Linked DNA regions of Homo sapiens. The protein of the gene in region 2 interacts with the protein of the main gene of each other region in a biochemical or structural test. Each region holds a gene or a part of one and is shown on either strand. Other genes may lie near its edges.

Region 1 (7,149 bases), on a different chromosome or scaffold from region 2:
AATAAAAATAATTTTGACTAATAACAAATTATTCCTATCTTGTAGTTTCTTTGTCAGAATTAAGATTAGCATTATCTATTAATTACTTCTCTGTGGCTTCTATGACATTGTTGTATCCAAGCAAGTAAAGAAGACATTAAGCATTTAGAAACAGCCCTTAGATGTCTATGTCTGTTCTTCAGTGTTAGGAGTAAAAGCAAGCAATGTGTAAACTGATTATTTTTAATAAATGAATCAGAACAGTTCAAAGTCAGATAAGTTATACATTTTAGACTGGGGCAGAAGTCACAAGACCCAGATTCTAGGCTATGATTAGCAGGGCACTTGATCTCTCTGGGCCTGAAGTTTCTCACCTGTTAAATGAAGGATTTAGTTATGCCAAAGGTCCCAAACTTTCTCAGTTCACAGCATTCCTAGTGTCTCAGTAATTTTTTCATGGTGTTGCAAGCTAAAAGAAACACCTAACAGTTCCATTTATTAAACAGTTAAACCCAAACTTATGTTTGTCTATCCTAACAACTTAGTAGCTATTTAAAAAATAATATACATTAACATTTTTTATTCTTAATGGGATGTGCACATCTGTTGGGCACTTCATAACTTCTCAAACTTAGGAATAAACTTGGAAACCGCTACCCTCATTCCTGTTCTACAGTAATTTTCCCATAGTCCTTGTGTTTTATTACAGCAATTTACAAAAACACAGCCTCACAAAGATACGATGTCAAAAGGAATGAAGTACAATTTAATGTGTAGAAGTTCTGAACTACCTCAAGATAGTGGTTTGCACGGTGTCCAACTGATGTCACTGTGTTGGCCTTGAAAATTTAAAATATCCCATGATAGTGCCCCTGTGAGTTTGTTGTGGTGCTCCTGGGGTGCCTCAGTACATAGTTTAGGAAGCATGGACTACCCTCTGTAAAATACTTCATATAGCTACAATGTGTGTTGTAAACTGTAAAAGACAATTCTGAGGGCCTGAAGTAAGGAGCTGCAGAATTGAAGAGGAGATTAAAAAGTGATACATGTTCAGTCTGCATGAAATTCCCCTTCCTCCCCAGGTCACCTATAAAATGCCTACCTATGCCTACCTATAAAATGCCTACCTATGCCTCAAAACTCAGCTCAAGCTCCCTCAGGGAGGTTACCAAGTTACCCTTACCAAGTTAAATCCACCTATTATACATTCTCACAGTATTCATTTCACAGTACTTGTCCCAGTTGTAATTATACATTCATTTGTGTAACTATCTGGTTAATTCTTGTCTCTCTCATTAGAATGTAAGCTCTAAGAGGAAAGAACATGTCTGATATCACTACTGTAACCCACAGTGTCTGGTATATTATAGGGGCTAAAATCTTGCTTAGTGAAATGAACTGTGATAGAATAGGTTTAGCATTCATTTTGATTATTTTCCTTTATTCAAGAACAGCTGATATTTATAATAGCATTCCTAAAACATTTTTCTCATACTATTTCGCAGGAGAAAGAAACCCATACACATACAGCTGCATCTGAAACCTCAGAAACTAAGCTCAACCCAATTGATTAAAAGGATGTTCTTTGGATAAGGTAATCAAATGTTCACCGACTCTTATAGCCAAATTAATTATTATGAGATAAAAATCACGTAACTACAAAAAAAAAAACTGCTCACAAAAAAGTTTTTAAATCTTAGCAGATGGACACAAACCATACTTTGAGAACCATGTTCCACAGTGCCAATACAGGAAGTTTCTAGATAATGGCAGCTCATTTTTTAAAAATGGCACTACACTATACTGTATTCACATGCCAGCAAAACTGTTAAGGTAAGTTCATGTCACTATTAAAATAAAATGAATTCTGGGAATTTTGTTGATATTCAATTTTAATCTTAATTATGCAAAGATCTGTTACTTAACTAAGACTATGTAACATAATATAGCATATGACTTCTGGATAATGAAAATAATCCTAAACTTAACCATAAAAAAATAAGGGTATGAAAGTCAAAATAAGGTAGAAAATGACTGCACCAAATAGCCAACAACCTTAAAAAGGGTAGGATTTTTTTAAATCACTAAATTAAGATTGGTTCATTGCATTTAGTACATCTCTTTTATGAAGAGGAGTTATAAGCTACAGAATCAATAAATTATGTTTTGATATAAATTTTTCACCCTTAAAGTTCCTAGCTAGGAGGAAATTATTCTTTTACACTTACACGTTTTAGATAGAATGGCTATAAGTAAGCACAGATAAATGAAGAAATGAAAGAGAAGGGAAAAATAGAGATGGTTGATTCTGCCTCTGCAATTGCTAATTCATAAACATCAAACTTTCCCAGTGTACACTGTCTTCTTTGGGAATTTGCTCCATCTTTTTCCTTAAACTGAAAGGTGGCTTACTGAGGCTATCACTTTCCTAAAGGTCTCCCCAATACTGCCTAATTATTTTCTCTTATCACAGGATACAGGGTGGATGTCCATCTACTTCCTTGTTGTCACTTCCCAGATCACTTTCACTTTATGCTCTTCTAAAATTAAAACAAAGATCATCGACCACAAAACACAATTGTTCTTTTGTAGCTCATGCTAGAATACCCTCTTTGTTACATCTCCTTCATTTTTCTGATCCAAAATTTAGTAGCCTACTATATCTCACCCACTGTCCTTCTTTCCTCCAGCTATGGTAGAGAACTGCTCCTCCAACTTTATGTACATTTGAATCACCTGGGAGTTCCTGTGAACTTCGGGTTCTGATTTAATAAGGACACCCAAAGAGTCTGCATTTCCTGTAACTCTCAAAAGAAGCTGTGGAGTACTCTGAATAGCAAAGCACTGTAAGTGCTGTTTCTGTTAGTATCTAATCTATTAGTCCTAATCTCCCATTTATGCTTTGGCACTCATTCCCTCCTGCTTTCGGTATCTTAATATCTATCATTCCTTCACTCTTCCCTCAGGTTCCCTACATAGTTTATCTCTACCCCCTCTAAGCCGCTCAGTATCGCCCATTAAAGAACTAAACCAAAACTAGAAAACCCTCATTTAACCCTTCACTCCCCCTACATACAATCTGATGTGTCTCTCATCCACAGCTAAACTTGGAAGAAAAATTGCCTGCTTGAGGATGCCATTTTGTTATCTTCAGCTCAATCCTGTACCCACTTCAATGTTATTTGCAGGCCCATTACCCCAACACTGCATTCACGAAAGTCATCAGTGACTACACATTGAGAAAACAAGAATGACATTTTCAGTTCTCAACTAATTTGAATTTCTCAACAGTATTCAATATTGTTAATTACTCCCAATATTTTTCCACATGGTCCTCCATGACACAATACATAATAGTCCCCTTATTATCTATATTCCTGTCTATTGTAAAGACTTCCCCCGCACACCAAAAAAGGTCAAGGAAACTCCTAGCCTTCAAGTCTCAACTCAAATCTGGCCTTCTGAAGCCTTCCCAACTAGGAAAATATACAGTCCCATTGGTTGTCTACCAGTTGTCTACCAGTTAATTGTAATTCTTAGCCACAAGTTAGCTGACCCACCGTCTCTCAAACAGGTGAAGTTAAGCTCAATATTTGGCATATCTTGATATACTTTGTACAGTCTAGCTACAATAAGTTTGCCTATGCACGAAGATGGCTACCGGCGGGGGGGGGCGTCCTTACGTCCTACGTCATCACGTGCCGGGATGAGGGTGGGGCCCTCAAGGAAGACGGAATGGAATCCAGATGGGCGGGGGCAAGCAGGACGGGGCGGGGCTACGCGGGATCTGGGCGGGGCGGGGCCGGTGAGGGGTCGGGGGTGCTCCTGCTATTCAGCCGGTGCGCGCGGCGGCGGGAGGCAGTGGCTGGGGAGTCCCGTCGACGCTCTGTTCCGAGAGCGTGCCCCGGACCGCCAGCTCAGAACAGGGGCAGCCGTGTAGCCGAACGGAAGCTGGGAGCAGCCGGGACTGGTGGCCCGCGCCCGAGCTCCGCAGGCGGGAAGCACCCTGGATTTAGGAAGTCCCGGGAGCAGCGCGGCGGCACCTCCCTCACCCAAGGGGCCGCGGCGACGGTCACGGGGCGCGGCGCCACCGTGAGCGACCCAGGCCAGGATTCTAAATAGACGGCCCAGGCTCCTCCTCCGCCCGGGCCGCCTCACCTGCGGGCATTGCCGCGCCGCCTCCGCCGGTGTAGACGGCACCTGCGCCGCCTTGCTCGCGGGTCTCCGCCCCTCGCCCACCCTCACTGCGCCAGGCCCAGGCAGCTCACCTGTACTGGCGCGGGCTGCGGAAGCCTGCGTGAGCCGAGGCGTTGAGGCGCGGCGCCCACGCCACTGTCCCGAGAGGACGCAGGTGGAGCGGGCGCGGCTTCGCGGAACCCGGCGCCGGCCGCCGCAGTGGTCCCAGCCTACACCGGGTTCCGGGGACCCGGCCGCCAGTGCCCGGGGAGTAGCCGCCGCCGTCGGCTGGGCACCATGAACAGCAGCAGCGCCAACATCACCTACGCCAGTCGCAAGCGGCGGAAGCCGGTGCAGAAAACGTGAGTGTCCCGAGCGCGTCCTCATCGCGGGGGCTGGGCGCTCAGGCACGCGGGTGCGGGAGGCAGCCCCACCCCGCCCCCAAATCCCTGCGATCCTGGGATTAGGTCCATTCCCGGCACTGCCCGTGGAATCGAGGTTTGGAGGCCGGCTGGGAGACAGAGGACTTGGATTCTCCCGTTTTCAATGATTGCATTTTAAAAATTGTCCTCCCACCCATCCTCTTCCCCCGCACCAGTGCATACACACCCTCTCACATTTGCAACTTTGTTCTTTCTGATTTGGTCCTGATTTGTTGACAGCTCTGATCTGCCTTGGGCTAATGGATTAGTTAGTATAAACCTGTCTTGAAATCTCCTTCCACTTTTCATATCCGCATGGGTTAGGTTAGAGGACGGTCTTAATTCTCATTCTTCGTAGAGTTTGGTAAGGCGAGATGTTTTAAAGAGCTAAACACATGCTGACTTTTACGAAGGGGCTGAGTGCCTCTAAAGGTACTTTTTGGTCCCCACCAACTGGCTTTGTGTTGCGCTCATATTTACTTATTTGGCAGCAATTTTGTAGCGCTCATCGTGACCATATCGGTAAAGTGGATAGAAGTGGTAGCAGGTGGGAGTGGATGCAACGGACAGGATACGGTGGAGGATTTGTATTCTTCAGACATCTTTTTCGGAAGCTTGCTTATCACTTTTGGGGTGGCTTTAGGGTCTGTAAAATAAAAGATTTAGAACTGCATTTGAGAGAGGTTTTCATTCTTAACATCTACCTCTAATTCTTTTCCCCTTCAAAGTTTTCTTCTAGTTGAGTGAGTACAAACTTGCTTTTGTCGTTGTCGGTTGATTTTGGTGGAATATTTGTGTGAGATGGCCAATTTTTTGTGTGTGTCAGAAAAAACTATCCGTGCTCAAAACATTTCCTGTTGTGAGGTGGTTGTATTCATGTGTTTATTCCAATTTTTTTATTTCTAGATCTCTGAGTTACTTTACCTACATGTGTTTCAAGTTTTCGTAAACAATTTTAAGAACTCTTAAACGTCTTCTCAGACCAAATCAGAAGTGTGCATTTTGCTTAGACTCCAACTATCACTAATGGGAACCAGAAAAATAACACTTTAAGATTTACATTTAAAACCAGTTATTGGTTTAAAGTTTCATTCTAAAATTTTAGTTTCCTTTCAGAATTTCAGTTATCATAGTTCTTCAGAAGTATACTTATGAATTGGCATTAACAGAGGATAATAATCTATAAATAGACTGATGAAAATTTGGAAGTTTTATGGTACAGTGTGTCTTAAGGGAATATTGTCAAACCAGCAGTTTTCTACCTTGGCAGTTTGAGACATCGGTTATTAATACTTTTAATTTTGTAGAATGGTTTCTTATATTAAAGTATGTTTGTCTTATTTGACATTGTCATTGATGGTTAAAGTTGGGAGGCATCCCAAATGTCTGTTCTATGTGTTTATTAATATAATAATACACTTAGCATCATATATAATAGGGGTGTCATGGGTTTTATGTGTATGGTGAGAAAACATGAAGATCTCCCTGATGTGTTTTTAAGATACTGGGTTTCAGTTAGGGTGTTATCAAAGGACCTGGATGGCTTTGTAAACAAAAACAAATGCCATAATTTTGTATTCATTACACAGTTTAACATTTATGGATTTTGGTTATTTTGCGTAAAATGTACTTTTTATTAGATTATCCTAATATTATACTTACTTAGTTTTTAATATACTTGTATTAATTTCTTATAATATAACAAAAGTATTTTTTCCATTCACCCACATTTTGTTAGCATAGATGTTTATCAGATCTCTGCTGAGCACCGTATATTGCTTCTAATCATACAGATGCCTTAAATATTACCAGCTTGCTCTGTAAGAATAGGCTAGTGCTGGCATTTTCATTATCAAGTGAAAGTGTTTATATAAATTATTTTTACCTGAATGAAAAATTGTTAACTTTATAATGCAGTTAATCAAAGTTTATTTTAGAAATGAAGTCATTAAACCTAGTATTAAATTTGAGTTTTAAAATTAAACTACCAGTTTGTGGCCTAATGAGCCCCAAAACATGCCAACATTGGGGAAAATAGATCTTGTTTTGAGCTGAAAATGCTATCCAGACCTACTTAACTTTGACCTCTTAAATGAGAGCCATTTTATTTTATTTACAGATAAAATATGCTGTAGCATTATTATAGGACTGTTTAAAAAGACAGCCAATTAAATATAAATTTTATGGAATATAAGTATTCCATAAAATTTTGGAGTAAAGTAGGTGACAATTGTAACCTGAAGCTCTTTCAATCTTGAGTTGAATTTATTAAGAAAAATCAACCCCCCCTAGTGGCGGCTCTCACATTGAAAATTATCTTTATTAGTAGGAAATACATTTTAAATGTGTTCAATTTAATCCCACTGAAGTATCTCCAACATAGTAGACTCTCAATAAATATTTCCTTTCTTTTTGGAGTAATGAAGGTTGGGAAATTAAAGGCTCTGAAGCAACTTTACGTCCAATTCATGTTCCTACCTTCAAGAAGAAAATATCAAAGATAACTTTCATTATAGAATCTACTATAACTTTGCTTAGACTGTTGCCCCATACTTAGTGACCCTACTCAGAA
Region 2 (7,983 bases):
TTGCATGAGTCTTCAAACAGAAACTATAGAAAGTACCATGATCATAACCACATTTCGAAAGTAACATAATAGTAAGTTTCCTCTGACTGTATTAATAAAATCCCTCAGTGTGGGCATATGGGGGGGTGTTAAGGATGCAAAACAAGGTACCAAAGTACAGCTTCTGAAGATCTGGCTAGACTTCTGGTCTAACAGCTAGTATTGGAAGGGAATAGGTTGACGTCATGGCCTTTGTTCAGCCAACCCCCCGTAAACATCATTTCTCTCAATTAAGCTTCTGATCAAATTTAGCAACAGAAAATTCATATTCTCTGGCATGTACAGAAACAAATGCATTTTGTATCACTGTTGAGGGGAGACCAGTAGACAACAATCACTCTTTATGTATTCACTATATCTGAAATTCAAGGTCATACAAATTTACTTCTGTATATTTTTTTCTGCAATCAACAATTCTGATTTTAGCACAAGTGAATTGAGTGGATCCTGTTGAATTTAAACAAACAAAAAATTATGGGCTGGGATTTTAAAAACAATAGTAAATGGCATTTAGCAAGAAAGGAATAGAGGTTTCTAAAATACAGCCTTTAGGAAGATAAAGAGAGGAAATCCAGGTCTTGGATTGCATTCTGGTGGTGCTTGTGGGGGCGGAGTGCTGGGGGATCAGGAGGTAGGACCCAAAAGTGAGTCAACCAATCCCAGAGGCACTGCGCATTTGGTTGTAGGACACACAGAAGAGAAAAATACCTCTTCAAATCTGAGATTAGAGCTTTTATTTGACTGTGATTCCAAAGCCAAAGTAATAGCAGTTAAACTGAGCAGTTAAAGGCTCAACTCCTACTTGTAAAATGAACAAATAAGTGCTTATAAGTAACAAGGTAAAGAGAGCTTACTGTAACCAAAGGGGAGGGCTTTTTTGAAAAGCTTAAAGTGTGCAAGGAAGAGCCAGGTAAATTAATTGCTCAATACCCTGGGTTACAAATTTAAGAAGTGTAAAATGTAATTATCTTTATTACAGGAGGGAATTTTGGCTTTGTTTTAATAAATCATAACAAATTAATTTTTTTCATAAGTTCCCTCCCACTGTTGGTTCCTGCAGTCTTATTAACTTTTATAGGAAAGTTTTATTTCCTTATCCATCTAGGAAGAAAATAAGTAGGTTGGAGAAGCAATAGTAATAAAGTATGGCCTACCATATTGTGTAAAAATAAGTCATTTGAGTAATATGAAGTGAAGATGGTAAAGATGCATTAAAATGTCAGAAAGAAAACCTGGGAGCATGCCCAGATAATATTGTTAAGCAGAGACTGAAAGAAGTTCACACTGACTCATGAAATTCATGTGATGGAAAAAAGATGAAATCAAAACAGAAAATGTCATAGTGTAAAAATAAAGCAAATAAAGTTTGATGCAGTTAACCTTGTTTTTCTTTTTTTTTTTCAAAATGATATAACATTTTAAAGCAGGAAGACACTGTATCTTGCAAACCCTCATTTCACAATCCCCTGGCTGTCAAATTTGGAAACTGATGTGTTTCTATACCGAGGAGAAAACAGTTTAAATTGTGTATCTATATCACACATTTTGAATCATTTAAGAATCACAGACACTTCTACATGTTTTATTTCTACTTTTGCCTGTGATAAAAGACATGATAATTAGATCAAACCTGAAAAACTCAACTCTAAAATAAGTGAATACATCACTTATTAACCAAATCATTGTTTCCTCTGGCGTAACTTACAATTTTCTTTAAAACACGACTTTTACTTTTTAAATTGTGTTTGAGAGCACAGTTGAAGTTGGCATGATTACCAGTGAGACTGGAAATTTTGCAAGCTTAGACATGAAATGAACTTAAGAGTTGGGGAGAATTACCTCATAACCTTGATGACATATTACAGAAAGATAGCATATGGTCCTAAAGATGTCAGAATTGAAATATAAATGTTAAAATAACTGAGTTTGCCTATTTATACAAAGAGGCAATTTTTGAAATTCAATTAAATTTCACCGGCTACAGAACAATTCTGTGATTCTAAATTGTGGTTTTTAGATGAAAGCTTGAAACACAGTTCATTCATTCAACAAATAACTAATGGGTACTTATTCTGCATAAGATGCAGAAGATTACAGGATTTAAAAAAAAACAGATTCAAGATTCTGTCCTATTTGAGCTTATACTGAGTCACTTCTCCAAATCTCTATACCTAAGTGACTATAAAATTGGAGCTTACAGTGATGCATTTTTCAAAACTTTAAGCCTTATTGCTGAATATAAAATAAAAAATGATAGTCTGGGAAGAGGGAATCTTGCCAAAAGCTCTGATGTATAAACTTTACACCTAGAGGAGAAAAAAAGCATTAATACATAACCAGTTTCTGAGAAATACAGAGCATAACATCGAGTTGGAAGTTAGGCTGGGCACAAGGCTGCCTCTGCTGGCTGACCCGGTACATCTTTCCAGCAGAATCTCAACTCCCGACACCTGTATCAAAGTTGCCACTCTTAAAACACATCCCTTCACGTAAGCAGAGGCTCCTAAATACTCAGCACAACAATATCCCAGCCTCATCGATCTCCAGAATAATCTGACTTCTAGAAGGACCTTCTCTAAATTGGCCCTAACGTGTTGACGGTAAGGGTTTGCCCCATCGATTTTATATACCAACTAGCTAGCTCTGAAATACACAAAAATCCACAGCGACTTCTACATGCCACTAATAACCCTTTGCCTGTCTACATGTTTTGGCTAGAAAGATGGGAAGAACGCATCTGCTAATCCAGCCGGAAAAACACAGTGACATATTTCCACCTGAGCTGCTGAAAATCCAACGGTCTTCTCCCCAAATAAGCCCCATGCCAACCTGTCCTCCCCACTCTCGTACTGGCGCGCACCCCCACGAGCCCCCCAAGGGGTGGGCGGGGAAGGGTCAATCTCTCCTTCGCCCCCGCTCGGCCTCCCGAGCTCAAGCAGAGGTTTTCAGGTTCACAGGGGGCTACGCCCAGCGCCATTAGCACACCTCCGAGCGCTCCACCGAGCCCCCGGCGGGAGGCAAGTTTGGCCGGTCCTGGACCCTGCTCGCGGCCTCTCGGCGGCAGCATCAGCGGCGGGCGGCGGCGAGGGCTGGGCCCCGCCTCACCACCTACCTACAGGGCGGGGGCGCCGGCTCCTGGGGTCCGGGAGAAGGGGATCGGTCGCATGCATTTCTGGGAGCGGTGGCCTCTGCTGCTGGGCGCCGGGGAGCGCATCCTCTCGGCGGGTGGAAGGAGGGGTCAGGGGAGGACCGTACGCCGAGGAGGAGCAAGAGGAGGAGGCGGGAGCTCCGAGGCGCGCGCCCGCGGGGCCCCGCGTCCGGATCGGGTGTGCGCAGCCGCCGCAGTCGGGGTGTCTTAGGCCTCTTCCCACGCGCGACGCCTCGCCAGCCCCGCAGCTGCGCCCCCCGTCAGGGCATGGGCCGCTACGGGGTCCCGGGCCCGGCTGAAGGCGGGCAGTCACGGGTGGCGCGACGCTGTGCAGACGCCCGCCTCTAGCTCCTCCCGGCCAGTGGCGCGCGCTGCGCCTCACAGCGGTTGCGGGGGCCTGGGAGCTCGCGCCGGGCTCTGCCGCTCGGACTGCAGTTGCGGCATCCTCCCCGCCCCCCGCGACCTCCGAGCTGGGAGGCTGGGCACCCCGGCTACCCGCGGCTGCTGCAGCCTCCGCTGCCGCGATCCCGGCGGCTCCGCCCCGGAGAGCTGCGCGTGCGGCCTCCGCAGGCCTCGGCCCTTTGTGGCGCCTCCCGAGTGCGGGCGCCTTGCTGCCCCAGCGAACCGCCGCCTGGCAGCGGCACCTAGGAGGGTCCTCTTACCTCACCCCGGGCCGCTTCCCCCTTACAGTTGGCCCGCCTGGCCCCTACTCTTCGTGGGAAGTAAGGCTTTGACAGCAGAGCAGGAGTTAGAGCTTTTCCCCAGCTTTAAAGCCCTTTGACTTTCCTTCCAGCTCAGGACCGATGGCCACAATAAATTCATCCTGTGTCCCTTCTGGCGTTGCGTTTAACAGAGGGGCCCACCATCTCCTTCCCCCTCCCGTTCCCGGTACACCATCCTGGATGCTGCCAAATTGCAGTCATTACAGCAATAAGAACATAGCAGTTGGGCCCTCCAGCCGACTCTTGGCAGAGACTCGAGAGAACCTTGGAGGGGGAAGGTTTGCATCAGCTGCGGGGCCTGTGCCTGTGAGCTCCCCATCCCCAGTTGGGTGCTGTTCCCTCTGCGGTCCCATGACCAGCACTGCAACATGACTAGGAGGATCTGGCCGTGGAGTTCATTCACTCTTATACGCAGAAAAATATCCCAAGGAAGGGCCTGCAACTACTCTGTTAACAGTGTGTTACAGGCCTTCCACACAGATAAACTAGATAGCAGCCTCCTCTGGGTTGTTGACGCAGCTTAAGCTGTAATAACCTCTCTGGAAGGCGGAGCAAAGCGTTAACAGTGGTGGCTTTGGCATTTCAGCAGCAGGTGGTCATGTTATACTGTCTTGCAAATGTGGAATAATTGCCCAGTTTTGCACTAAGCACGTATTAATTTAGACGTCAGGTTTATATCTTTGGGATTTGAATGTAAAGATGTTGGATTTTTTTTTTCTGTAGCCATTGTGTTATTTGTAAATTGTTTAGCATTTAGTAAGGGAAAATTAGGTTCCTAAAGTATAAAGAGCTGATTGCATTGTATCAAAGGAACATGGTTTGAGATCTCCAGGGAAGCTGAGCTGCTCTCACAGTTCTTTGATGAGTGCTTTTATGATTTTGCAATCTAAGGTTATTGAAAATCAGGCAAAAGAAAAACATGTTCCCTGGCAAGGACAAATTGTGACTAAATAGCTAAGATTTTTTGAGATAGTTCTTTTAAGCAAATTGAAGGTTGGGTGTGAGGCCCTGTGGGAGCTGCACTGCGCTTGTCCAGGAAGCACCCAGTGGGGTGTGACTTGGCTGCTTCCTGACACTGGTTGATCTAGAGCCCCACTTTATTTTCAAAAGATAACTATTATTATTTATGATATTTTCCCAAACTTAGAATTACTTGATTATAGGAATATGTATGTACATATCTGATGTATAAGTAACACGTTGAAGTCACTTAGGAGAATTTGGCAGTTGCTTACTCTTTAACAAAATTTTTAAGTTTTGAATGTAGTTTCTGAAGGAAGTGTCCATTGACTTACAAGTTTTCCCTGTTTCTCATCCTTTTACTATCAAGAGGCCCCTGTTGTTTTTCTCTCTATGGACTCCATGTTTTGTAAATAAATTAAGCAGTGATGTTTTTATTAGACAAAAACCTATAACTGAGTATGAATTTTTAAAGTTGTGACCATCAATTATAAAACGTCAGTCTTCTGGCCAGGCGCAGTGGCTCACGCTTGTAATCCCAGCACTTTGGGAGGCCGAGGCGGGCGGATCACGAGGTCAAGAGATCGAGACCATCCTGGCCAACATGGTGAAACCGCATCTCTACTAAAAATACAAAAAAAAAAAAAAAAATTAGCTGGGTGTGGTGGGTCCTGTAGTCCCAGCTACTTGGGAGGCTGAGGCAGGAGATTCACTAGAAACCGGGATGCAGAGGTTGCAGCGAGCGGAGATTGCACCACTGCACTCCAGCCTGGTGACAGAGCGAAACTCCATCTCAAAAAAAAAAAAAAGGTCTTCCAAAGATATTGCAAGGAATGTAAGAATCCATCTTTATGAACTCCTCTAGGACTGCATGCTGTATCATATGCTTCTTATAACATTTTTATTATACTGAAAGTCCTGATATAATAAAGATTTCTGCTCCCCAGCTAAGGGAGTACAAACTCCTCCTAAAGATTCTTCACTTGTTCCTTTCCATTAACTGATTTACCTAAGCCTTGGCTTTATAGATAAATCGGAAGAAATGAAACTCTTCCTTGCATGTGTTGTCCAGTACTGTATGCCTTAGCTACTTGTAGCCGTTTAAATTTAAATTATGGCTAGACTGTGCTTTTGGATAGCACAAACTAGAACATTTTCATTATTGCAGAAAATCCTTTTGAACAGTGCTGCCCTAAATAGAAGGTCAAATTTTAATTGGGAGATAAGATATAATACATGAAATAATTTGGGAAATCTTAGTATACTACAGATCAAACCTCAGTAGAAAGTGTACTTCTTAAGAACATGGTAATCTTTAAGAATTCAGGCTCTGGCTTCAGACTACAGCTCCACCACGTGCTGACCTTGGGTAAACTACTTAACCTCAGTTGCTTTATCCGTAAAGGATATGCTTTATCCATAAAGAATGGTAACAGTACCAACTTTATAGGGTGGATATAGGAATTAAAGGAGATAATCCCAAGTGGTTCTTAAAGTCTAGAATGTGGCCATCAATCAAAGGTATTACTAGAATAATATACTTTATTATGATAAAGTTTTTAAAAATGGTATCCCTAACACTTTTCACTGTTCTTGGCTGCGGAAGTTACTTGGTAAATGCTGAATTAATGAAAAAATATAATACCACACTGATTTTATGGCTGTGAGGGCCACCTTTAAATATGAAAACTGGCCTTTCTCTGTTGAAGGGTATGGGCCATTGGAGGATAATTTAGGTGGATTTGTCATTTAACTTTTGCAGGAATAAACAACCTTTGTATGATGAGACTTTGGAGTAGATAAGAGAAGCAGAGATCCCTTCCTCTCTTAAAGGAAGAAGAGAGGGATCACTTCACTCCGCCATTTGTTTGTTTCGCTGAGCCTGTGGGAGGCAGCTGGATCTCTGGGTTCAGGCAACAGGATTTCTCCCAAGTGATTTTCTAGAGGGCTAAGGTAGGCGGGCTTAGAGAAACATTGCCAAACAGTGGCAATCCTGCAAATGTGTTCGGTATTTTTCTTACCTATCTATCTAAAGACAATTCTTGTAATGAAGAAGCATGATTAGTATTTCTGTTTTTGAATACAACACTAGTAATGTCTCATGAAACTAGAATTCTAAAAATATTGGCAAATATTGCTGTAACATTGCCCAAATGAAAGGCTCCTGAGTCTCTGGTTGATCTAGAGCTCTACTGTATTTTCTTTTCTGTTTTTTTTTTTTTTTCTTCCAGACAGGGTCTCATTAGGTCACCCAGGCTAGAGTGCAACCTCCAACTCCCAGCTCCATTGATCTTCCCACCTCAGCCTCCCAAGTAGCTGGGACTACAGTCATGTACCACCACACCCGGCTAATTTTTGTATTTTTTGTAGAGATGGAGTTTCGCCATGTTGCCCAGGCTGGTCCCAAACTCCTAGGCTCAAGCAATCCATCTGCCTCAGTCTGCCAAAGTGCTGGGACTACAGACATGAGCCCCTGCGCCTGGCCTATTTTCACACCTGTAATCCCAGCACTTTGGGAGGCCGAGGAGGGTGGATCACTTGAGGTCAGGAGTTTGAGACAAGCCTGGCCAACACGATGAAACTCTGTCTCTACTAAAAATACAAAACTTAGCTGGGTATGGTGGCACATGCCTGTATCCCACCTACTTGGGAGGCTGAGGCAGGAGAATCACTTGAACCCGAGAGGGAGAGGTTGCGCTGCGCTCAGATCGCGCTTATGCACTCCAGCCTGGGCGACGGAGCCGGACTTCATCTCAAAAAAAAAAAAAAAAAAAAAGACAATGATTATTGTGTATGATATTTTGTCCCAAATTTAGAATTACTTGATTATAGGAATGTATATGTACATATGTGATGTATAAATAACAGGATGAAGTCACTTAGGAGAATTTGGGAGTTGCTTACTCTTTAACAAAATTTGTAAGTTTTGAGTGTAGTTTCAAAACTGGTTAAGTAATGACCTTGGAGCTATTGAAAATATTGAAATGTCTTTGGAAGGTCTCTCAAAAGCTGTGGGAGAGGAGTTTTATGCATTAAGTGATGAGCTTAGGCTACTAGCACCAAGAAAATTCACTCTTTAGTGAACCTATCCTTCTTTCTCTAGCGCAGAGAGAA

Evidence for each region. The genes of interacting proteins can lie anywhere in the genome.
Region 1: the proteins of NCOA7 (region 2) and AHR form a complex in vitro, tested with the Homo sapiens proteins (one study listed by BioGRID).

What each region holds. Positions count from the first base shown.
Region 1 is NC_000007.14:17,294,813-17,301,961, forward strand, and holds the start of AHR (aryl hydrocarbon receptor), read left to right. Parts: upstream 1-3,839; 5' UTR 3,840-4,452; coding exon 4,453-4,517; intron 4,518-7,149. UniProt on the Homo sapiens protein: Ligand-activated transcription factor that enables cells to adapt to changing conditions by sensing compounds from the environment, diet, microbiome and cellular metabolism, and which plays important roles in development, immunity and cancer.
Region 2 is NC_000006.12:125,786,236-125,794,218, reverse strand, and holds the start of NCOA7 (nuclear receptor coactivator 7), read right to left. Parts: upstream 3,260-7,983; 5' UTR 3,152-3,259; exon of another isoform or gene 3,025-3,151; intron 1-3,024. UniProt on the Homo sapiens protein: Enhances the transcriptional activities of several nuclear receptors. Involved in the coactivation of different nuclear receptors, such as ESR1, THRB, PPARG and RARA.